Homo sapiens: one gene and its partners. The protein of the gene in region 4 interacts with the protein of the main gene of each other region in a pairwise test. Each region holds a gene or a part of one and is shown on either strand. Other genes may lie near its edges. The genes, in order: MOG, ASPHD1, TMEM119, TSHR, ADORA1 and SLC9D1.

The links.
Region 1: the proteins of TSHR (region 4) and MOG interact in a two-hybrid assay, tested with the Homo sapiens proteins (one large-scale study listed by BioGRID and IntAct).
Region 2: the proteins of TSHR (region 4) and ASPHD1 interact in a two-hybrid assay, tested with the Homo sapiens proteins (one large-scale study listed by BioGRID and IntAct).
Region 3: the proteins of TSHR (region 4) and TMEM119 interact in a two-hybrid assay, tested with the Homo sapiens proteins (one large-scale study listed by BioGRID and IntAct).
Region 5: the proteins of TSHR (region 4) and ADORA1 interact in a two-hybrid assay, tested with the Homo sapiens proteins (one large-scale study listed by BioGRID and IntAct).
Region 6: the proteins of TSHR (region 4) and SLC9D1 interact in a two-hybrid assay, tested with the Homo sapiens proteins (one large-scale study listed by BioGRID and IntAct).

The regions. Positions count from the first base shown.
Region 1 is NC_000006.12:29,655,763-29,659,891, forward strand, and holds the start of MOG (myelin-oligodendrocyte glycoprotein isoform alpha1 precursor), read left to right. Parts: upstream 1-1,329; 5' UTR 1,330-1,447; coding exon 1,448-1,535; intron 1,536-3,556; coding exon 3,557-3,904; intron 3,905-4,129.
Region 2 is NC_000016.10:29,899,123-29,903,287, forward strand, and holds the start of ASPHD1 (aspartate beta-hydroxylase domain-containing protein 1), read left to right. Parts: upstream 1-1,365; 5' UTR 1,366-1,849; coding exon 1,850-2,798; intron 2,799-4,165.
Region 3 is NC_000012.12:108,592,218-108,595,084, forward strand, and holds part of TMEM119 (transmembrane protein 119 precursor), read right to left. Parts: intron 2,329-2,867; exon of another isoform or gene 2,120-2,328; intron 181-2,119; 5' UTR 167-180; coding exon 1-166. UniProt on the Homo sapiens protein: Plays an important role in bone formation and normal bone mineralization. Promotes the differentiation of myoblasts into osteoblasts.
Region 4 is NC_000014.9:81,088,121-81,091,620, reverse strand, and holds part of TSHR (thyrotropin receptor isoform 1 precursor), read right to left. Parts: exon of another isoform or gene 553-3,500; coding exon 478-552; exon of another isoform or gene 1-477. UniProt on the Homo sapiens protein: Receptor for the thyroid-stimulating hormone (TSH) or thyrotropin. Also acts as a receptor for the heterodimeric glycoprotein hormone (GPHA2:GPHB5) or thyrostimulin. The activity of this receptor is mediated by G proteins which activate adenylate cyclase.
Region 5 is NC_000001.11:203,126,330-203,130,525, reverse strand, and holds the start of ADORA1 (adenosine receptor A1), read right to left. Parts: upstream 2,801-4,196; 5' UTR 2,598-2,800; intron 2,249-2,597; 5' UTR 2,212-2,248; coding exon of another isoform or gene 2,094-2,211; intron 1,742-2,093; 5' UTR 1,685-1,741; coding exon 1,344-1,684; exon of another isoform or gene 1,269-1,343; intron 1-1,268. UniProt on the Homo sapiens protein: Receptor for adenosine. The activity of this receptor is mediated by G proteins which inhibit adenylyl cyclase.
Region 6 is NC_000013.11:113,489,701-113,493,820, reverse strand, and holds the start of SLC9D1 (transmembrane and coiled-coil domain-containing protein 3 isoform 1 precursor), read right to left. Parts: upstream 2,801-4,120; 5' UTR 2,548-2,800; exon of another isoform or gene 1-2,547. Other genes in the region: DCUN1D2 (DCN1-like protein 2), read left to right, coding at 3,152-3,388. UniProt on the Homo sapiens protein: Probable Na(+)/H(+) antiporter.

The DNA of each region.
Region 1 (4,129 bases), on a different chromosome or scaffold from region 4:
AAAAGCCAGAGATCCACAGCGGCCACTTTTTCCATGGGATTGACCCCTGCAATCTTGACTTTCAACCACACAGCACCAGAGTAGCCAAACATTGCTTGTGTCCAAACGCTGGCTGCCTTGAAGGGTGAAAGAATAAGCAGTTCCCAAACTCAGCTGACCTTAATGTCCTTCTAGCTCCTTACGCCCATCTCGGACAAAAGCAGAAATGTATGTCTCAGTTGTGTTTCTACCCCTTGCTGCCCAATATAAATTTTTGTGTTGCCCAATATAATTTTTTGTGACGATGGAAATGTTCTGTATTTGTGTTGTCTGATGAGATAACCACTAACTGTAGTGCTATTGAGCATTTGAAACATGGCTAGTGTAATCAATGAACCAAATTTTTAATTTTATTTAATTGTAATTAATTTTAAGTGGCCACATGCAGGGAGTGACTGCTGCATTGGACAGCACGGCTCTAAATTGAGCCTTTTTTCCTTATTTGGTGAGGCATACTTGCCTTAAGATTGGGAAGTCTATTTTTGGAACCTGCTACCAATGCTGGTCTCACACTTGCAATTCTCAGCTGAGCCAAGAGGTGAGAGAAAGGTCATTTTCCATTCCAGATCTCACTCTCCCCTGTGACACTGAGGAAACTGGCAAGTGATGTGAAGGCTGGAGAGCGTGTCCTGTATGCTGGCTCTGTCCCTTCTGCCTGTGTTGACTGACATAGTTAGTTGCTGCCCTTGCTGGTCTCCCTTCCTCCAACCTTGCCTCTCTGAGCACACCTGACATTCATCTCATGACTTCCCTAAAAACATTCTTTGGGAACAAGAAACTAACAAATCCCAAGTGACCTATCACATATACAAACATACAGGGCAGAGTTTGGATTCGCGGTAGAAGAAAGGGAGGTTAGACATTAAGAAGAATGGTCTGGTGATGACAGTTGTGAGATAATAGAAACAGGAAAAAGAAATCTAAGTTTTCTTTCTTTTTTTAAGAACCAATAATAATTTCTCTCTTTTGACTAGTCAGTAGGGCTGGGGTGGATTGGAGGAAGCTTACATATTCCATGAACAAGCCTCTTCCTAAGGTCCTGTAAGTGATCCTGCCCCACTGATTAGCCCCTAGAAGACCCTTCAAAGGTTGGATCTCCAGGAGGGAGTGGGGGAGGAAAGCCCTGTACCAGGCAGCCTCTGCTCCATTGCTCTGGGGGGGTGGGGAAGGCAAACCCTGGTCATCCCCTCAGTCTGTAGCCCTTTTGTGTGAGTGCCTGGCAAGGGTGACGTGGGGCTGTTTCTGCGGGCACAGCTGCAGCAATTACCGGAGTGGAGGCAGGGCCCAGGCAGCACTGCCCTCCAAGATCTTCCCTTGGGCTTTTCAGCAGTAAGGGGACATGCACCCCAAGGGCCTCCACTTGGCCTGACCTTGCTGCGGGGGCTCTCTGTCCCCAGGAACAGTAGAGATGGCAAGCTTATCAAGACCCTCTCTGCCCAGCTGCCTCTGCTCCTTCCTCCTCCTCCTCCTCCTCCAAGTGTCTTCCAGCTATGCAGGTAAGACATGTTTTTTTTCCTGCCCTGGGGAGACCCTGAAAACAGAAAGGCTAGTTTCCTGGGGCTTAGCTCCTTCAAACATCCTCAAGTTGCTATATTATCTTTCTAAAACATAGACCTACTGACATGCCTCCCTTCCTCAGAAACCTTCCGTGGGTGGTTCTTACAGCCTTCAAGATGGAGTCCAGACTCTTTTTTTTTTTTGAGACAGAGTCTCCCTCTGTTGCTCAGGCTGGAGTGCAGTGGCATGATCTCGGCTCACTGCAACCTCAGCCTCCCTGGTTCAAGCGATTCTCCTGACTTGGCCTCCCAAGTAGCGGAGACTACAGGCGCCTGCCACCACACCCAGCTAAATTTTTTCTTTTCTTTTTTTTTTTTTTTTTTTTTGTATTTTAGTACAGACGGGGTTTCACATGTTGGCCAGGATGGTCTCGATCTCTTGACCTGCTGATCCGCCCGCCTCAGCTTCCCAAAGTACTGGGATTATGGGCGTGAGCCACTGCACTAGGCCTAATTTTTTTATTTTTAGTAGAGATGGGGTTTCACCATGTTGGCCAGGCTGGTCTGGAACCCCTGACCTCAAGTGGTCTGCCCTCCTCAGCCTCCCAAAGTGCTGAGATTACAGGCATGAGCCATTGCGTCTGACCCAGACTCCTTAATGTGACTAACTCAAGGCTTTCCTTGAACTACTTCTTACTTGTCTTTCCAGCTTTGTCTTTTCACCTCTCAAATTGAGATAAAATAATAACAACCTCTTGGAGTTCTCATCAGGATTACATGAAATGAGATATGTAACATGCTTAGCAGTGCCTGTCCATAGTAAATCTCAATAAATGTTTGTGGAATTATAATATCTTGTCATGTTTGAGACTTTGCTCTGCATAATCAGGCACCAGTAGGTTTTTATAAAGGAACCCGGCTGTCACGTGCAGAGGAGAAATAAACAGAAAGTTTCCCATCCTCAGGGAGCCACCTGACTGACAGAGGCACAGTGCATCCACTCTCCAGGTCTAGGGGAGAAAGCAGCCTTATTTCTTAGTAGCTCAGAATCTGACTTGAGAAACACATCCACATAGAAAAAAACAAGGAACTTTTTCGGGTCAGGGTCCGGGAGCCACAGTGAGGTGGAAGATACAGGGGAAGGAAGAGGGAAATAGAGCCATCCCCAGGGTGGAAGATCTCAGAAGAGAATTTGGGAAACAAGGTATGAACAAGGACTGAATAGTGAGAAGTGATGGAGAGACAGTTAAAGTAGATGGAGTGACAAAAGCAAAACCTCTAAGGGTAGAATAGGCAGCAATTTGGCCAAGTCCTAACAGGGAGGCCCATAGGAGGATTCAACCTCAAGATGCTGTGCCACATTCCAAGAGGGAACCTAAAGGCTGGGCTGAAGAGTCAGAGATGGCTACAGCTGGCAAAAAGATGGGCAGATGCTGAGAGGAGATGATTGCTAAAATGTTCTGTCCAGGACATTCACAGTATCTCTATAACCAGAGTCTTTTTTGTCGTTGTTGTTCTCAAGAAGGAAACTTGAGGCCGGGTGTGGTGGTTTATGCCCATAATCCCAGCGCTTTGGGGCCAAGGCAGGCGGATCACCTGAGGTCAGGAGTTCGAGACCAGCCTGGCCAACAGTGTGAAACCTCATCTTTACTAAAAATACAAAAATTAGCTGGATGCGGCGGTAGGTGCCTGTAATGCCAGCTACTCGGGAGGCTGAGGCAGGAGAATCACTTGAACCTGGGAGGCGGAGGTTGCAGGGAGGCGGAGGTTGCAGTGAGCCAAGATTGCACCACTGCACTCCAGCCTGGGCGACAGAGAGTAAGACTGTCTCAAAAAATAAATGAATAAATAAAAAGGAAGAAGAAGAAGAAGAACAATTGCAATCCTCCCTGGCTCTAGAATGTCATTTAAAAGTCGAGTGTCTTCTTCCTTCCCTGTTTTGAAGCAGCCCTTCTCATGACAGGCTTGCTTGCCAAGGTTCCCTCTGACCTTAAATCTCTTCCTTTTGGTGTCTTGGACAGGGCAGTTCAGAGTGATAGGACCAAGACACCCTATCCGGGCTCTGGTCGGGGATGAAGTGGAATTGCCATGTCGCATATCTCCTGGGAAGAACGCTACAGGCATGGAGGTGGGGTGGTACCGCCCCCCCTTCTCTAGGGTGGTTCATCTCTACAGAAATGGCAAGGACCAAGATGGAGACCAGGCACCTGAATATCGGGGCCGGACAGAGCTGCTGAAAGATGCTATTGGTGAGGGAAAGGTGACTCTCAGGATCCGGAATGTAAGGTTCTCAGATGAAGGAGGTTTCACCTGCTTCTTCCGAGATCATTCTTACCAAGAGGAGGCAGCAATGGAATTGAAAGTAGAAGGTGAGTAGTGCCATATAATATTAGGTATTAACTGTTGGGTGGCCAAGAACAATTATTCTCTCAACTGAGATGAGATCCCTCAACCCAAACATCTCAGTCCTGGGAATGATTTCCATAAAAATGTACACATCAATAAACAGAAACTCATGCTTAGGGATGTCTGTTGCATCATTATTCAGAGTAGCAAGGAAATTGGGATCAAAATCAATGCCTTTGAGTAGGTAA
Region 2 (4,165 bases), on a different chromosome or scaffold from region 4:
TTTTTTTTTTCCTCGTAGGAGTCAGCAAAGAAAGACAATTTCTCTGCCCCTTGGGATGGAGGGGCAGAATTGGGCTAGGGGTCGCCTGGAGCCCACCCCCCTTTGCTCAGTCTCCTCTGTCCTCTTCTCGCGGCTCTGTGGTGGAGGGGGCGCGGCTCCGGCTGCAGGGGGTGGGGCCGAGAGGGCCGAAGGGGCCGGGTGGCCTGGGTTACCCTCCTGCTCAGGCGCCTGGGTCCACTGGGCTGTCTGGACCCCAAGCTAGGGGACTGGGGAGGAGAAAGACAGCTTCTGGGGGTTTAGGGTGGGGTCGAGGATCGAGGGGGTCTCCACTGGGCTCTAGCGGGGCTTGTCGGGGAGGGGAAGGGGTGGGTTGGGGAACTGGGAGAGCCGAAGCTCGGGCACTGGAGCTGCGGGAGGGAGAAGCTGAGAAAGGTATCGAGCCCACGTCAGATCCTGGGGACGGGCGGAGGGAGGGGCCTGGGATTTATTTGACGGGGAGGGAGGAGGAGGAAGTGCAGATGGAGGAGGGAGGGATCATACGAGCCAGGGCCGTAATCCTCACTCCCGCGGCCCCTAGGGGAGGCAAAGGAAACTCTCTGGTCCCAGCAGTAATTAGCCCCCTCCGCCTGCCATTCCAGCACATCTGGAATCTGAATCTCCTCTTCCCAGGGTGCCGAGGGGCTGCATAGCTTGGTTCGCGCCTGCTAGGCCCCCAATTATGCCCCCTGTTCACATTCAGACCTCCCAAGGGGCTTCCCTTCCCCTTTTACAGTAGCTCGGGTGGAATGGGCTCTCCCTCCTCCAGGGGAATAGAGAGCTTCCACGATTGTGACAAGTCTCGTGGGTGACGGGCCGGGGTTTGGGGAGGAGAGACAGACCCCTCCTCTTCCATAAACCCTGACCCCGGCCAGCTAACAGGCGGCCTCGGCTCTGATTTTCCCTCCGGAGCGCCCTTTTCAGCACCAGCGGCGCGCGGACAGCTCCCCTCGCCCCGCCGGGGCGGGCCCGGCCCGACGCCGCCCGCGATTGGCTGAGGCCGCTTTCGGTGTTTGCCAGGCTCGCGGGCTCCCGGGCTGCCTAGGGCCAGCGGGAGTCACAGGCCGACCGACCGACGGACCAGCCGCCCGACGGACTGGCCTCAGCATCCTTGCCCGCAGTCCCGGGCGCCTGCCCAGCCGTCAGTCCGCGCTCGCCCCGCCCCTCAGGCCCCGCCCCTCAGGCCCCGCCCGATACGACCCGCCCCTTCTTTCGCATTGCGGGACGGCTGGAGGCTGGCACCGTGGCCCCTGCGCCCCACGTGGCGCCCTTTCCGGGCGGGGGGGGTGGGGAGGCACCTCCAGCGACAACTCTCCCCCCTCCCCCGGCACCCGGCTGATTTGCTGTGCCACTGGGAGGGTTCGGGGGTGGCTGAGCTGAGAGGGCTCCGGGAAGGAGTGACGTCAGGGTGAGTGGGAGCCCAGGAAGGAGCGAGTAGGAGAGAGGGAGCGAGAGCCAGGCAGGACCGCAGGGTCGGGGCTAGTGAGGAGCGAGGGCAAGGAGAGAGCAGTGAGGCCGGAGAGAAAGAAGCTGCCGCGGAGGAAGACAGGCTGCGGGTTCCCGGGACTGCAGGTCCAGGCAGGGTAGGAACCGCTGCCCAGGGGAGCTAGGAGGAAGCGGGGAGAGAGAGCGAGCGAAAAGCGGGGGTGGGGAGGAAAGGGGGAGATTGAGGTGGGAGAGAGAAGCAGAGCGAGAGAGAGGAGGCTGCTGGAAGGAGAAAGAAGAGGGTGAGGAGGCGACAGAGGGAGAGGAGGAAGAAGAGGTAGAAGGAGAGAGAAAGGGGAGAGAAAGGAGAGAGGAGGGTTGGAGGTGCATGAAGGAGGGGAGAGGGAGCTTCAGCGTGGAGAGAGGACCGCGGAAGGAGAGAGAGACAGCCCAGAGTGGAATGTGGAAGGGAAACAGTCCAGCGGGGAGCCAGGGGGCAGCCATGGAAGGGACAGGTGGGGAGCTGGGGGGACAGGGGAACTGGGGTCCGGAGGACGCCCCAGGCCTCTTGGCCAGGGCCTCCCTGATCATGCTCCCGTGGCCACTACCCCTGGCCTCCTCGGCCCTCACCTTGCTCTTCGGGGCCCTCACTTCCCTGTTCCTCTGGTACTGCTACCGCCTGGGCTCCCAAGACATGCAGGCCCTAGGGGCTGGGAGCCGAGCTGGGGGTGTTCGTGGTGGGCCTGTGGGATGCTCGGAGGCCGGCGGGCCAAGCCCAGGGGGTCCTGGGGATCCCGGGGAAGGACCTAGGACGGAAGGCCTAGTGAGCCGGCGGCTTCGGGCCTACGCAAGGCGCTACTCCTGGGCTGGGATGGGTAGAGTGAGGCGGGCAGCTCAGGGTGGCCCAGGCCCTGGGAGAGGGCCAGGGGTCCTAGGTATTCAGCGCCCAGGCCTGCTTTTCCTACCAGACCTGCCTTCAGCCCCCTTTGTGCCGCGGGACGCCCAGCGGCACGACGTGGAGCTCCTGGAGAGCAGCTTCCCTGCCATTTTGCGGGACTTCGGGGCTGTGAGCTGGGACTTCTCAGGGACTACCCCTCCGCCTCGGGGCTGGTCCCCACCTCTGGCCCCCGGGTGCTACCAGCTCCTGCTGTACCAAGCAGGCCGGTGCCAACCCAGCAACTGCCGCCGGTGCCCGGGGGCCTATCGGGCACTGAGGGGGCTTCGAAGCTTTATGAGTGCCAACACCTTCGGCAATGCCGGCTTTTCCGTTCTCCTGCCTGGGGCCCGGCTCGAGGGCCGCTGTGGGCCCACCAATGCCCGGGTCAGATGCCATCTGGGTAAGTAGCTGCCGCCTACTGACAACCTCCTTGCCTCGATGATTTCCCCCCCAGACCCTTCTCTCCGCCAGAGCCGTCTGCTGTCTGGTTCTCATTGTGCCTCTCTTCTTCCATGGCTCCCTGTTGCCACCCACAGCAGCATTTCCTCAGCCTCGGTTATCTGCACACCACCTTCATAAGCTTTGCCGTGGTCATTCCCATCTGTACTGCGTTTCTTCACCTTGGCTCTCCCCCCGACCTTTTGTTCTACGTATTTAAAAGAAATATTTATAGCACTATCAGTATTACTTGCCCTAAATAGTACTCATAAAAAGCCTGGACAACACAGTGAGACCTTGTCTCTACAAATAATAAAACAATTAGCCGGGCGCGGTGGCCCATGCCTATGGTCCCAGCTACTGGAGAGGGTGAGGTGGGAGGTTCACTGGAGCTCAGCAGTTTGAGGCTGCAGTGAGCTGAGATTGTGCTACTGCACTCCAGCCTGGGTGACAAGAAAGTACTCATAAACACAAGCTGAAATTTAAAAAAGAAAGCTTTCAACAGTCTAGAACATTCTAGTTAAGTGCTCTAGTCTCTCTGATCCTGAAGCCTACACTTTTTTCTTTTTTGAGGAGTCTCGCTCTGTCGCCCAGGCGAGAGTGCAGTGGCACGATCTTGGCTCACTGCAAGCTCCACCTCCCGGGTTCATACCATTCTCCTGCCTCAGCCTCCCGAGTATCTGGGACTACAGGCACCTGCCACTACACCTGGCTAATTTTTTTTTATTTTGTATTTTTAGTGAAGACAGGGTTTCACCATGTTAGCCAGGATGGTCTCCATCTCCTGACCTCGTGATCAATCCGCCTCGGCCTCCCAAAGTGCTGGGATTACAGGCATGAGCCACCGTGCCTAGCCCTACACCTTCTTTTTTAAAAGGGTTGGTGGGGTGTCAAAGTTACAGTAGCACCAAACTGAGATTTTTTCTTTTTCTTTTTTTTTTTTTTTTGAGACAGGGTCTCACTCTGTCACCCAGGCTGGAGTGCAGTGGCACAAACATGGCTCACTACAGCCTTAACCTCCTGAGATCAAAGGATCCTCTCACCTCAGCCTCCTGAGTAGCTGGGACCACAGGTGCCCACCACCATGCTTGGCTGATTTTTTAAAAATTTACGTAGGCCAGGCGCGGTGGCTCACGCCTGTAATCCCAGCACTTTGGGAGGCTGAGGCAGGCGGATCACCTGAGGCTGGGAGTTCGAGACCAGCTGACCAACATGGAGAAATCCTGTCTCTACTAAAATTACAGAAAATTAGCTGGGTGTGGTGTCGCATGCCTGTAATCCCAGCTACTCGGGAGGCCGAGGCAGGAGAATCACTTGAACTCGGGAGGC
Region 3 (2,867 bases), on a different chromosome or scaffold from region 4:
GCGGGAGGCTCGGGGAGGAGGCCGACGAGCCCTCGGCCTCCCCACTACCCGCCACATCCTCCAGGAACGTGGCCTTCAGGGGCACAGAGCGGGCGTCGGTAGCAGGCACAGACCCCAGGAGCAGCAACAGAAGGATGAGGAGGCTGGGGGCTGCCGCCGAAACCATGGTGCCCCCAGGACCTGTGAGACAGGAGGGAGGAGAGAAGTCATGGCGGAACTCTAGAGTGTCAGGATTCAGAAACAGGCTCACCAGCCCCCAGGAGGAACAGGGAGCATGAAACACCTTCTAGCAAGTCCCTTCCATTCCCAGGGCCTGAGCCCCGCTGGTTCAGCTGTGGAGTACAGATGTGCTCCCCCACTTCTCTGGAGGTCCCGGAGGTCAGGGGCTGAATCTTATTCATCTCGGCCTCCTCAGGGTTTGGCCCCATATCTGGTATTCAGTAAGTGCTCAATAAATGTACCCTGACTGACGTGGCTGAATTAATAATGATAATTTACACTTTCATGACTTTATGTGTCAGCCACTGTTTTAAGTTTCTTACATGGAACTTCTCAATGAATCCTGATCACTGCCCAGTGTGGGAAGTTCTATGATTAGGCCCATTTTGCAGATGAAAAAACAGAGGCTGAGAGGGACGTGGTGACTTGCCAGGGAAGAGCTGGGTCTGGATCCAAGCAGAGAGGGAGAAATGATAGTAGGGCTGAGTAAGTGAGAAACCGATTGAGTGACTGAGGTTGCTGAGTGACACCTCACCCCCTACCCACAACTCTGGGACCCTTCCCTTCAGTCCCCAGCCTCTCTGTGGTCCCGTTCCCCTCAGGGTCTGGCCCCCATGCACTGGGTGGCCAAAGTGGCTCCGCGCGGCCACAACCTGGTGGTTCAGGGGCTTTCTCAAACCTTCCGCCAGCCCAGCTCTACCTTATTCTGCAAAAGATTCCTAGCAGGGCAGGCGCAGTGGCTCACGCCTGTAATCCCAGCACTTTGGGAGGCCGAGGTGGGCAGATCACTTGAGGTCAGGAGCTCAAGACCAGCCTGGCCATCATGGTGAAACCCCATCTCTACTAAAAATACAAAAATCAGGCAGGCATGGTGTCGTGCCCCTGTAATCCCACCTACTTAGGAGGCTGAGGCAGGAAAATCGCTTGAACCTGGGAGGCGGAGGTTGCAGTGAGCCGAGATCGCGCCACTGCACACTCCAGCCTAGGTGACAGAGCGAGAACCTATCTCAAGAAGAAAAAAAAAAAAAGATTCGTAGGGTTTGAAGCCTCCAGGTCTCTGAGCTAGGCAGGGGTCATGGATGCCAGGGGCATGCATGGACAGCCCCCTGTGGCTGCCCTCACCCCCAGGCTCCAAGCAGGAGCCAGGATGGGCCCCAGGGTGGGGAAGTCCTGGTTCCCAAGACAAAGCTGAGCTGCCGATGCGCCCCGCCCCCACTAGATGGGAACCAGATGAGCCGGGGGCCTCCCTGCCCTGATGGAAGGCTGCTCCCGGGTGAACCCCAAGACCCCACCTGGCCCAGACAGCCCGGCTGATGAATTAATTCCTCATAGCCAGAGTTGACAGAGGAGCTGAGTTTCAAAACACTGTCTCTCCCAGCCAATGTGAGCTGGGGGCTCCCAGCTGCTCAAACCCAGGGACAATTCACTGCACTGTCCTCTGAGAACCCCTGCCCGGCCCAGCAGAGGGCTCAGGTCCCGGAAGCGGGCTTGGGTCTAGAAGCTTCAACACAGAAAAGCCTTAGGATCTCCTGTCCTGAGGCCTCAGGGAACTGAGGTGGAGAGACAGAGGCCCGGAGAAGGCAAAGGGCAGGCCCAGGGCCACACAGCAAGTTCCGGGCTGGAGGAGGAAGCCAGGCTCCCAAGGCCTCGGCTGCGGTCACATCTCCAGCACCTGGGCCTCAGGGCCTGCTTGGTGAAGCAGAGGACACTACCTTCCCCACAGGTACCGTGAGGATTCTGGAGGTGAGGTAGGAACCAGGTTGGGCCATTGAGGGGCTTGTTCCAGGTGACCTGAGGCTTCTCTGTGACACAGCTTTCATTGAAATGGATCGCATCAGCTGGGTGCGGTGGCTCATGCCTGTAATCCCAGCACTTTGGGAGGCCAAGGTGGGAGGATCACCTGAGCTCAGGAGTTCAAGACCAGCCTGGTCAACACGGCAAAATTCTGTCTCTACTAAAAACACCAAAAATTAGCCAGGCCTAGTGGCGCACACTTGTGGTCCCAGGTACCGAGGAGACCGAGGTGGGAGAATCGCCTGAGCCCGGGAAGTTGAGGCTGCAGTGAGCGGAGTTGGCACTGCACTCCAGCCTGGGTGACAGAGCAAGAACCTGTCAAAAAAAAAAAGAAAGAAAGAAAAGAAAAAAAAGAAATTAAATGTGAACAAACTGGCTTAGATGGAAAAAATAAAAAAATAATTCCAGGACATAAAAAGAGGCAAAATTGGCCAGGTGTGGTGGCTCACACTTGTAATCCCAGCACTTTGGGAGGCCGAGGCCGGAGGATTGATTGAGGGCAGGAGTTTGAGCAACATAGTAAGACCCCACCTCTACAAAAAAATAAAAAAGTAGCCAGGCCTGGTGGTGTATGCCTGTAGTCCCAGCTACTTGGGAGGATCGCTTGAGCCCAGGAGTTCAAGACCAGCCTGGGCAACATAAGGAAACCTCCATCTCTATGAAATATATTAAAATATTTCAATTTTTTAAAAAAGAGACAAAGCTTCTCAGGGGCTCATTTTAAATGAGCTGGTCACCTGTGCTTTCCTCGCGGGTACTCATCTAAGCCCTTTTCATGCCTTTAATCCTACAGGAGCCCTGAGGCAGCTTCATTATCCCCATTTTACAGATGAGGAAACAGAGGTTCAGAGACA
Region 4 (3,500 bases):
AATAAGGTATCATAGTTATCATCAAATATTCCTTCTATTCAACCATTCCCATTGGCAAAGAAACATTGCATAATTTCTTCCATTTAAAAACAAAAACACACAAACAAAATCTTTTCTCCTGACTCAATATCTTGCAATTACTGAGCTATTTTCTGCTCCTTTTAATAGTAAAACCTCTCAAAAGAGTTAATTATGGTAACTCTTTCTAATTCTGTCTACCCAAGTCTCTCTTGAGCCCACTCCAACCAGCACTCCACTGGAACTGTTCTTGGCAGAGTCACCAACAAACCACATTGCTAAAGCCAGTGGTTATTTCTCAGTCCTTGCCTTACTTCATGCCAGTGTAGTCACACCTGATCATTGCTTACTCCTTGAAACAATTGCTTTACTTATCTTCAACCTACCCTCATGACTGTATTCTAGTTCTTGTCAGTGACAAACAAAATATTGTCAAACATGGCATGTGTGCATACTTACAGTATAAAGAATATATCAGTGGAATAAACTTTGGTCAGGTCAGGGAACATTTTAAGTCCAGTGTTGAAAATGCCACTAAATTAATGAAAAAAAGAGAAAAAAAAGCATAGAATTTAGGTAAAAAAATCAACACATAGGAAGGAGAATAATGTAATAGCTGAAAGCATGGGTTCTGAAGACAACCTGTAGTCAAACTCCCAACACCTTCCCTAAATATCTGAGTAACTATGGGCAAGTTCTGATGGTTGGATGAGATGATATTCCCTCAAGGCATAATAATTTAATCCAGTCCACTGGTGTCAATACATCTGCTCGGCTTAGAATGCTCTGGAGATTGTTTTAACCAAGTGGGTTTACTAGAAATATAAATTCAGTTTTCGTGTGTGTGTGTGTGTGATTTTCTCGTTTAATTGGAAAAAATTATGTGTTTGTTAGTGAAGGGCTAAGAAGAAGATGGGACAGGAAGATATGATGACTTTAAGCCAGCTTCCTCTTTCAAGCTCTACATGATATTATGCTGTTATTTTGCCAAGAATATCTTTCCTACAGCAGTGACCTGAGAGTACCATTATAACAGTACCATTTAAAAAAATATGTCCAGAGAGCCGGGCACAGGGGCTCACGCCTATAATCCTAACACTTTGGGAGGCCAAGGCAGGTGGATCACTTGAGTCCAGGAATTCAAGACTAGCCTAACATGGCGAAACCCTGTCTCTACTAAAAATACAAAAATTAGCTGCATGTGTTGGCATGCGCCTGTAATCCCAGCTACTTGGGAGGCTGAGGCATGAGAATCACTTGAACCTGGGAGGTGGAGGTTGCAGTGAGCCGAGATCATGCCACTGCACTCCAGCCTGGGTGACAGAGGGCGACTCTGTCTCAAAAAAAGACAGTGTCCAGAAAAGGAAGGAAACCAATCAAAGACAAAGTCTTTACCTTCTGTAGTTTATATCATCTACAGAAAAATGTTAAGATTAAAAGACATGCATAAAACACCATGAATACAAGAATTCTCAGGCTCCTGATGCCTCCCAGATTTAGTTGTTTTAACATTTGTTGCAGCTACTTGAATGTAATTAGAATTTTTTTTTTTTTGAGAATTTGGCATAGCATAGAGTGAGATCTAGACACTACTCAGTAAAGCTCTAGAGAAGGTCTTCTGGTAGAAAAACTATATCCATTGATACTCCTTCTGAGGCAAATTCAGACTTGACTCCTTCTAGAGAAGAAGGCATAGGATTTGAAGAGGCAGCAGGAGCCAGAGGTCTCAAAATCAGCAAATGGGAGGGACATTCCAGATAACAAAGGAGAGAGGTGAGATTCCATAAGGTATATTTGAAATACAGTAAACGAACTAGTTCAATTGCAATAGGTGCTCATGAAGAACAGTAGGAGGGAAAAAGGTCCAAGAGTCAAGTGGGGTCCATATACTTGGATCAAGATCTTTCTATTCTTCAAAAATCTCAAACAAGTCCCTTAAAACCATGCTGTGGGTCTTCTTTCTGATGTCTTCTCTAATTACCTGAACCCCCAAACACTGTATATGTCTCTCCTTCGTCACTTTCCATTATTCTTCTGTAGGAGAGGCACTTTTCAATTTCATACACATCTCCTCAACTAGATTACAGGCAAGGACAATGTCTTAGAAACCTGTATGTTCCCCACAGAGCATATAGTGGGGGATCATCACATCAAAGGGTTATTGTATTATTTGAAACTCAGAGTCCATAAGAAGAGTGATTGTCTTGTCCCATAAGCTTTCATGGCTTTCCAGACATCCTTTCATCTTCATATCCCATCAGTGTCTTCCATTCCCCTGGCATCTCTCACACCCACCTCTTCAATATACAACTATTGGCCAGGCACAGTGGCTCATGCCTGTAGTCCCAGCACTTTGGGAGGCTGAGGCGGGTGGATCACCTGAGGTCAGGAGTTCGACACCAGCCTGGCCAACATGGTGAAACCCCATCTCTACTAAAAATACAAAAATTAGCTGGGCATGGTGGTGCACACCTGTAATCCCAGCTACTCGGGAGGCTGAGGCAGGAGAATCGCTTGAATGCAGGAAGTGGCGGTTGCAGTGAGCCAAGATCACACCACTGCACTCCAGCCTGGGGCAACAGAGCAAGACTCTATCTCAAAAAAAAAAAAAAAAAAGCAACTATTTTTAGTTCCCCAAAGAAGCTGCGTGGTTCCCTACATTTGTGTCTTTATCATGCTATTCCATCCAGCTAAATTTCTTTTCTATCTCCCCATTCTTGTTCAAGATACCCTCTATTCATCCTTAAGGGCTTATCTCATAAAATATCTATGATAACATAAGTTTGTTTTGAAGGTCTGGATGAAGATGAACTGAAATGTTAATAGTGCTTATTTTGGGGTTTGGGATTAAGTTTTTTTTAACAATTTTCTTCTTCATACTCTTTGTTTTCTAATCTTTATAATGCATGCAAGTAGGAAAAAGGACTCTTCCACCTGGTATCCAGGGGGCCTGAGGTCATACAGACACATCCACTGAACACATTTGTACTGAGCGCCTACTCTGTACTAGGCAGTAAAGATTCAACAGAGAAAAAAAATGTTGTGGTCCCTGGATTCATGGAGCTTATGGTTAGCTCATAAGGTGTTTTCAAAGCAAAGCAGTGAGTGCTGGACATTTGAGTGCTGGAGTGGGAGGTTGAAACTGTTGTCCCTTCTGTTTTCCCTCCACTCCCCATGGAAGTGTATTTTACTCTTTGTGGGTTTTTTTTCCTGTGTAACAGCCACTCTAATAATATTGTTGTGATACCCATTTTCAAACAAAATTGACCAACTGGCTCTCAGAATTTTGTTTTGTTTTGTTCTGAAATACTACATTTAAGGACCACATATACATGATAGCATTTTCTCCCTCCTGTTTCTTGGAGCAGGTCTCTGGTTCCAGCATTATGTGCTGACTTTTGAATAGGTTTTAAAAATGTGGATCATTTCACCCGATACCTTGCCCCCGACCCAGGCTATACACCATTAAAATGAACCTGGAC
Region 5 (4,196 bases), on a different chromosome or scaffold from region 4:
GTTCCCTTATTCACCCCACCTTCCCTGGAAAACCTGGAGGGTGGAGGGAGGTAGACAGGGCAGAGAGACTGGCATCAAGCCACTGGGCATGGGGAATCAGGAAGGAAGGCAGATAATTAGATCACACTTCTGAGTGAGCTTCAAGGAGACCCTCTGAGTCTTAGTTTCCCCCTTTAAAAGCTCCTGCTCCACCTCCCTTACAGCGGCGTGATGATAACAGGAAAAAATCATGCATGTAAGAAAGGCTTTGAAAAGTTAAATGTGCACAAATGTAACACAAAGGGAGAAACATGGGTCCCTAGGCCTGCCCGGGCAAGGGGCCAAGTGAGGTCAGAGGCCCTACATCCCAGAGAAGCTATGCCGGGGGTGGCAGGTGCTGGAGATGGCCAGAGCTCCCCAGGAGAAAAGGAATCTACTGGGGGCAAGAATTCAAAGAGGGGGCAAGCATGCCTCACAAGAGCGTCCCAGCAGGGCCAGTCCCTGGCAATATGCCCAGGCACTCGCTGGCACTTGGTGGCCCAAGGCACTGCCTGGTGATGAGATTGTGGCCTGGCAGGGAGCTCCAACATGGGCTGGACACCCACACTGAGGACGGCACCAGCAGGCCACCCATCCCAGTGCTGCCTGGGAGCAGCACAAGCACCTCTACTGTGACCAGCAAAGAGGTGGTTTTGCAACAGAACAGCAATATGAGAAGTAGGCACCAGCATTTTTCCTTCCTCCTGTCTGTAACAGAGGTCCCATAAGTGGGAGTGAGGCAAAGGTAATCAGACTGTTGGGTTCAGCTGGAAAGCCCTGGAAGGAACAGCTGGCTAGCACAGAGATACCTGGTGAATGAGAGAGCCAAAGCGTGCCTTTGGGAAGCCTGCCGTGGTCTGGCTGGAGAAGCAGCACTCCTGCCCCTGTTGTGCCACCCTCAGTATGTTCCCACCCCACCCTAACTCTCTTCTCTGCCTCTTCCTCTTCCTCTTCCCTGGGACTGGCAGAGCTCAGCTCATTCCTACCCAGCACTCACTGTGACCCCATCTTAGTGGCTCTTCCAAATCTCCCACCTCCACCCCAGGCCTGACAGGCAGCCTCAGGTTCCCTGGCTGCAAGAGCTTCAGCTCTGAGGTCATGGGCACTGGTAAGTTCACAGTACAGTCCTCCAGCCACCCATCCCCCTCCTGTTTCTCTGGCCCTGCAGAGCGGAGCACGGAAAGGCAGAGTGAGGACTGGAGCACGATGGCCCAAAGAACATCTGGCTTACTTGGGGTCTTATGCTCTACCTTTTTTCCTTTCTAGATGGCCCTCAAGCCAGCCATCATGTGGTGCTGCGAGTACCTTCGGCGCTGTGGACTCACCGGAGAGGGATCTTGACCCGGAGGTAGCGGTCCACAGCAATTGCCAGCAGGGCCAGGATGGAGCTCTGGGTGAGGATGAGGACCGGACAGGCAACCATGAGGCAGGTGTGGAAGTAGGTCTGTGGCCCAATGTTGATGAGGATGGCGAGGGGGATGACCAGGGCACCCACGGCCACATCAGCCACCGCCAGCGACACGATGAAGCAGAAGGTGGCATCCCGCAGCGCCTGGTTCACCTTCACCGCCCAGATCACCAGCACGTTCCCGGGCACAGAGACCAGGGCGATGAGCACCTCGATGCCGATGTAGGCGGCCTGGAAAGCTGAGATGGAGGGCGGCATGGCGGGCACAGGCTGGGCACATCAGCAGACGGGCACCAAGGGGCACGAGGCAAGCACCTGTGTGGTCAGGGAAGCCTGGGATGGGGAGACCCGTCTGGGAGGGGCAGGGAGCTCAGGCTGCCCTGGAACTCCAGGTACCCTGTGATGTGTCCCACTTGTCACATGCAGCTCCTACCCAGGCTGGAGGGGCACCCGGACCCTTCTCTGCCTAATCTTTGTCCCTTCCCTTTATCATTCCCAGAGGTTCCATTCAGCAACTTAAAATAGCAGCGCTCACTCCTCCACTGGCTTTTTTATCAGGTGTGAGGCAGCTCCCAGCGCGCGCGCACACACAGACACACGCACAGAGGGGTCTCCCATGACTGGCTCTGCCCACCCCTGTGCACAGAACAGGATGCAGGGAGCTCACCATCCTGCCTGCTGGCCGGCAGGGGTCCCAGAGGCAGTGCCCAAAGTTCCAGGGAACAGAGCTCCGGGCCGCGCGCGGTAGGGCTGGGCTGGGCTCTGGACAACGCGCGGCAGCTCATAGTCCTCCGGCTCCCGCCGCAGCGCTCCCAGCCCGGCCTTTCAAGCAATCACATGGTACGGCAGAGACTCAGCCCCGGACGCTTTTAAAGAGGTAGCGCCCCTGTTTCGCACCTGGGACTGGGGTGGCAGACGTGGGTCTGGGGACGGAGCCCAGGACAAGGCTGGGGCGTTTCTCCCTATTCCCCAGCGTGCCCGCACCTGCCCTGCGCCCACCCACTTGAGACCCGTCTGGTGCCTGGATCTTAGCAGTCCTCTGGTCCCGTTCCAGCTCTGTCGGGGAACCTTGCCCATGGCCTGCCCCAAGGGGGCATTCCGGTCTCTTCTTTCAACCCTCTCCTGCACCCCCATTGGGGAGCCCCAGGGGTGAACCGAGACTCAGACTTACCCAAGGTCACCAAAGCTGGCAGAGCTCCCGGCTGCCTGACTGTTCTGTCCAAGTGCCCCCACACCTCGACGCCTTCAGCAGCCGCTAGCTCCAGGGATTCCTGGGGAAGCCAAGGCCGGCCGGTAAGCTCCAGAGGGATGGTAGCTGGCTGGGACTCGACTCGGGCGCCTGCGGCTCTGTCGCCCCCGGCGCAGGAGCTGAGTGACAATCGGGCTCCGCACACCGGGAGGGGGCGGGGGCGGCGGCGGCACCCGCCAGCCCCTCCCTCCTCATCCTCCGTCTCCTCCCCCACCCCCTCCTCTTAACAAAGGAAGTGATACTGGGTGAGAAAAGCTGGAAAAAATGTGAGCTTTTCGAAGGGCCTGGTGTGTGCGCCCAGCCTCAGGACTGGACAGAGGCGCATCCTTCCTGTGTCCACTCTCTCCCTTCTCAATGCAGGACTCCTGGGAGCCCTGGTCTGGCCTCCAGCGACCCCTCACCCCTCACGGCACAGCATCTCTTCTGCAGGACTTCAGAATGCCCCCTCTGGGATCTCCCAAAGCAGTCGGTAGCCCTGGCACCCTCCCCCAATCCTAAAACCCTGCTCTCTCCATGAAACCAGTCCCTGCATCTTCTCATCCCATATTGTTTTGCAGGCTCTACCCTGAGTCATTATATTCCTTTCTCATCCATCTTTCAGAATTGCCTTTTAGTCTATTAGCAATTTCTATTTTGCAGATAAGGATGCTGAGGCTCAGGGAAGTGACCTAGCTTCCCAGGATCTCCTGGCAGTGTAACCCGCTCTGCGCTCCTTTTCCTTCCTCCTTCTTCCTCTTCATAGCACAGCGCTAAGCCATAAGGCATCCAGTCCAATCCCCTCATGTTACAGATAAAGAAGCAGGCTCAGGGAAGCAAGGGACTTCCGGAGGGTCACAGGGCAAATCCTAACAGGACCAAAATAAGAATCCCAGGCTCCTGACTCTCTCCACTGGGTCCAGACCCCTCCCCTGGCCACCTTCTGCCAGTTTCGGTTTAGGCAGTCCACTGATATTAACTAATGACCAGACCCTGGACATGGATGGATGCCTCGCAGAGATCCCAACCTGAGAAATCCTTGTTTGTGGGTATTGGGCAAGGGTTCTAGGAAGGCAAAGAGAGTCAGGCTGGGGACCCCAATGTTAGCTAGCCACAACCCAACCTGGCCTCTGGGGGTACTGCCCCCCTCACTGGATCTCAGAATGCAAGGAAAAGGGTTCTGCCCAGAGGAGGGTGGGCACGTTGCTCCCATTGGGGGCTGCACTGAATCACAGTGAGGAATGATGTGGGACCCGGAACCTGGGTAGCTGGGAGGCAGGGAGGAAGGGCAGTTGAGTCTTCTGAGGAGGAGGGGGAAGCCCTCTGTGGGGAAAAATAACTTCCATTTCTGCCTTTAGGGGGAGCAAGGAATCAGTGCCTCAGACAGCAAAATTACATTCCTTCCCTAGAAGCTAGTTGGAGAAATTAGGAAGTGTAAACTCTCCTTCCTCCTCGTCCCCTTGCACTTCCCCTGCTGACTTTGTCAACACGCCCAACAGCACCTGACGTCCTGCCTACTCCCCCTGCCACCCAGACATGCAGGCC
Region 6 (4,120 bases), on a different chromosome or scaffold from region 4:
AGACAGTACTGTGTTAGACAACAGTACTGATCAGAATTACAAGCAAAAGTCACCAAGAAAAGACTATATTCTGGTTAGAAAGTGTTCAATTCAAAACATTCTTGGAGACTGACTCCCAAAAGGAGAAGCACACTCCACAGAGAATTCACTTACCTAGAACAGGTAACTTCCTAACAAGATAGGATAAATGATAATGTGCTGTTCCAATCACTCAATTTTATGTTAGTTTCAATACAACTTTAAGTACACGTGTACAACTTTAAGTACACATTTACCACCTTAAAAACAAACAATGAGGCAATCACTTAGTCATGCCTAGCCATATAGCTGAGCTGTTATTTTAATGACTCACTCAACTGCTAAGCTTCTCTCGGTTGGTCCAACGGAGCTAAATAAATCAACAGCTACTTCACAAGTGAACTTTTAGTATTTTCCAGAACCAAGACAGAAATCTGAGATGCTTTGCTTACACTTCCCAGTTTCCCCAAAAGATCCCAAAAAGTGATTCTTTGATGGATTTTATGCTTCAGAAAAATAAGTTTCAACACAGCTCATGTGTGAATGACACCTCTATGTTCATTTCTGGTTCCTTCCTCAATCAGGTTCCTAAAATTAGTTGTCCCTCTAAGGGAGCTATAATTTTTATGAGAAACCTTTGAGGATTTTAGTTGTAGTTATACTAAAATTTCCCACTGAAACATACTCATAACATGAAACTGAAATTATTTATGGACCCTTAAAATACAAATCACCTTTATTCAAACTCATTTCATTTTATCTTCAAACTTGCCTCCAAAATCCTACTGACTACTAAATTGTAGCATGTTTTTTGAGCAAATTAGTAAACATCTTTAGCTGTTCTAGTTATTAAAAAGACACTTTGGATTCCTGTAATGTGTTTTTTTTGTTGTTGTTGCTGTTTGAGACGGAGTTTTGCTCTTGTCACCCAGGCTGGAGTGCAGTGTTGTGATCTCAGCTCACTGCAACCTTTGCCTCCCGGGTTCAAGCAATTCTCCTGCCTCAGCCTCCCAAGTAGCTGGAATTACAGGCGCTCGCCACCACACCCAGCTAATTTTTGTATTTTTAGTAGAGACGGTGTTTTGCCATGTTGGCCAGGCTGGTCTCAAACTCCTGACCTCAGGTGATCCACCCACCTCAGCCTCCCAAAGTGCTGGGATTACTTTTTAAATAATGAATTCTTAGAATTTCTGCATCTTGAGCAATTGATACACATAACAATGCGGATGTATCTCAAGGCTGAGTGAAAAAAAATCTCAATTTTATTGAGAAGACACACAGGTGTAGATTCACACTCACTAGTGCATGTATAGTTGGTGCAATCTCAACAGGTCAGGGGATTTGATCAAAGAAAATTCCCCACATATACTATGGTTTTGCAAGGTGCTACCATTGGAGAAAACAGGGCAAAGGCACTCTGTAGGATTTCTCTGTATTACTCCTTACAACTTCATGTGATCTACAACCATCTCAAAATAAAAAGGTTTTCAAATTCTACCTAAGACCAGGTGCGGTGGTTAATGCCACTGCTGTATTACGACACAATTATCTGTATTCCCAGCGCTCTGGGAGGCTGAGGTGGGCGAACTGCTTGAGGTCAGGAGTTGGAGATCATCCTGGGCAACACAGCAAGACCCTGTCTCTATTAAAAATGAAATAATTAGCCGGGCGTGATGCTCCCTGTGGCCCCAGCTCCTGGGGAGGCTGAGGCGGGAGAATCGCTTGAGCCTTGACCAGCCACTGCACTCCAGCCTGGGCGACAGCAAAACTCTGTCTCAACAACCACAAAAAAGCTTTAGAATATTTAAGTCAAGCCTGTAGGAGAAAAAAACTACAAATATTTCACAAGTAATCCAATCATTAAGACACTCCTTTTGAAAAAGCCGGTAAATAAGATAAATTTGGAAGACAGAATAATCAGAAAAACAGGCAGTGAATAGGGACCCGATACGCAGCGGTCTTGCTTCCCCCGCGCAGGCGTCCACACCCTGGGTCATGGACACCGTGAGGAGCCGTTAGGAGTCACAGGAGGGGGGCCAGGGACAGGGCTGCATCTCTGCGGCCGGCCCTGGAGGCCCCGAGTCCACCCGGGCGGCCAGGGTGGGAACGCAGGTTCCATTCCAGGTTAGAACGTGGGCCTCAGCGAAGAGCGCCTAGGCAAGGCCTGGAGGAGCGGGACCCCAGGCCACACAGACCACCCGACCCCGGGAGACAATACCTGCAAGAAAAGGGGAGCCCCGAGGAGAGAGAGAGGGGAGGTGAGCCCCAGGGAGGGAGAGAGAGGAGGGGAGCCCCAGGGAGGGAGGGAAGGAAGGAAGGGGACCCCTGGGAAGGGAAGAAGGGAATGGGAGCCCCGGGGAGGGAGAGAGGGGAGCCCCAGGGAGGGAGGGAAGGAAGGAAGGGGACCCTTGGGAAGGGAAGAAGGGAAGGTGAGCCCCGGGGAGGGAGAGAGGGGAGGGGAGCCCCAGGGAGGGAGGGAAGGAAGGGGACCCCGGGAAAGAGCCCCGGATGGACGGGCCTGGTGCTCACCGGGACGCAGGGATCCGCGCCCGCCCGTCCGGCCCGAGCATCACCGTTCCGCGGCCTGGGCCGGGCTCTGAGGCGCCAGGACCCGAGGGGCGGAGGGGGACGCTGTCTCCCGCCTCGGAGCGCAGCGCCGGAGGGCTTCCTTGCATCCCTTCCCAGGCGGGACCAGGGAGGCCGGGAGGCCGGGAGTCCGGGAGGGAGCGGCCGCCGCCCTGCCCAGCACCGCCCCCGCTCAGCCAAGCCGACCCGGACTCCCGCCCAGCCGCAGTCACTGCCCCCTTTAAGAGGCGGGGCGTGGGCGGGTCCCGTCGGCCGCGGGCGGCGAGCACTTCCTGGCCGGCGTGGGGCCTGGCAGCCGCAGGCTGGCGTTGGACCCCGCAGGGGCGAGCCAAGGCCCTCGCAGAGGGCTGGACGCGCAGGGGCTGTGGGGCGCGAGCTCCCGTGGGCCCCCGGGCGGCGCTGAGCATGCCGGGAGTGGGAGTCCCCGCGGCCGGCTCCCGGCACTGCCCCGGAGCCGAGGGCCGCGGCCGTCCGAGGACGAGGGCGGAGCCGCCGCCGCGCCTGCGCAGAAGGCCGGGGCCGGCCAGAAGCGGGCGGCGCGGGGGAGATGGTAGGTGGCCCGGCGTCGCCTCTGCCCGTCGGGGTCGGGGTCGGGGTCGGGCCCCAAGGTCGGCGCAGGCGGCGCGCTGGATGTGGGAGGCCGAGCCCAGCGAGCTGCGCGGGGCGTTCCGCGTGGATCCGAGGGAGGAACGCGCCGCGGGCCCGCGAGCCGGAGCGGTGGCGTCGGAGGCGCGGGACCGCGGGGAGCGCGGGTTTGACCCGGAGCCGCGAGGGACGACCGGGAGTGAGCGGAGGGCGGGGGCCGGGAGGAACTGTAGGGGCCTTGGGGCAGGGGCCGGGGCCGAGCGGGAACCCAGGCCGGGGGCTTCCCAGGGCGGCTTCGAAACGGGCAGTCGAGGCGGGCGAGGGCTCGGCTGCTCCTGCGGGCGTCTGTGCAGATGCTGAGGCTGTTGACCAAAACAGCGCAAGGAAGGAATCCGCGAGAAGCTCAGATTCGCGGGGGAGGCCCTGCTGCCGGGAGGGGAGGGAGAGGCACAGCGGGGCCCTAGCGCGGGCTCTAGCCGGGAGCTGTAGCGTGGCTGTAGGTGTGCATCTGTGGAGCTGGTAGAGTTCCGCAGCGCAGGAGGGAGGCTGCTGGAGGTGCACATCAGTTACTTTGAAATGTGGTGGAAATGGTGATGGATGGGATTTATTCAGTCCACATCGGTTCAGAGGCCAGCAAGGTGCTGCTGGGTGTGACTGGTGCTGGGCCAGGCATGATCTTGGCGTTGAGGGAGTTGATGCCCCAGCAGGGGAGACAGGCACCAGATGCACAATTGTTTGACCACAGTTGGGACAAAGGCTAAGGCACGGGTTCCAGGAACTTGTAGGATGCGGCTGTGGGAGTGGTGTCAGATGCTGAGGGTGTGAGTTGAACTGTGGAGAATTTCTCTGGAAATTAGCCAGAGAAAAAGTGAGGTTCCGGGGCAGCCAGCCGTGTGCGGCTCCAGGCAGAAGAAACAGAATGCACAGACCC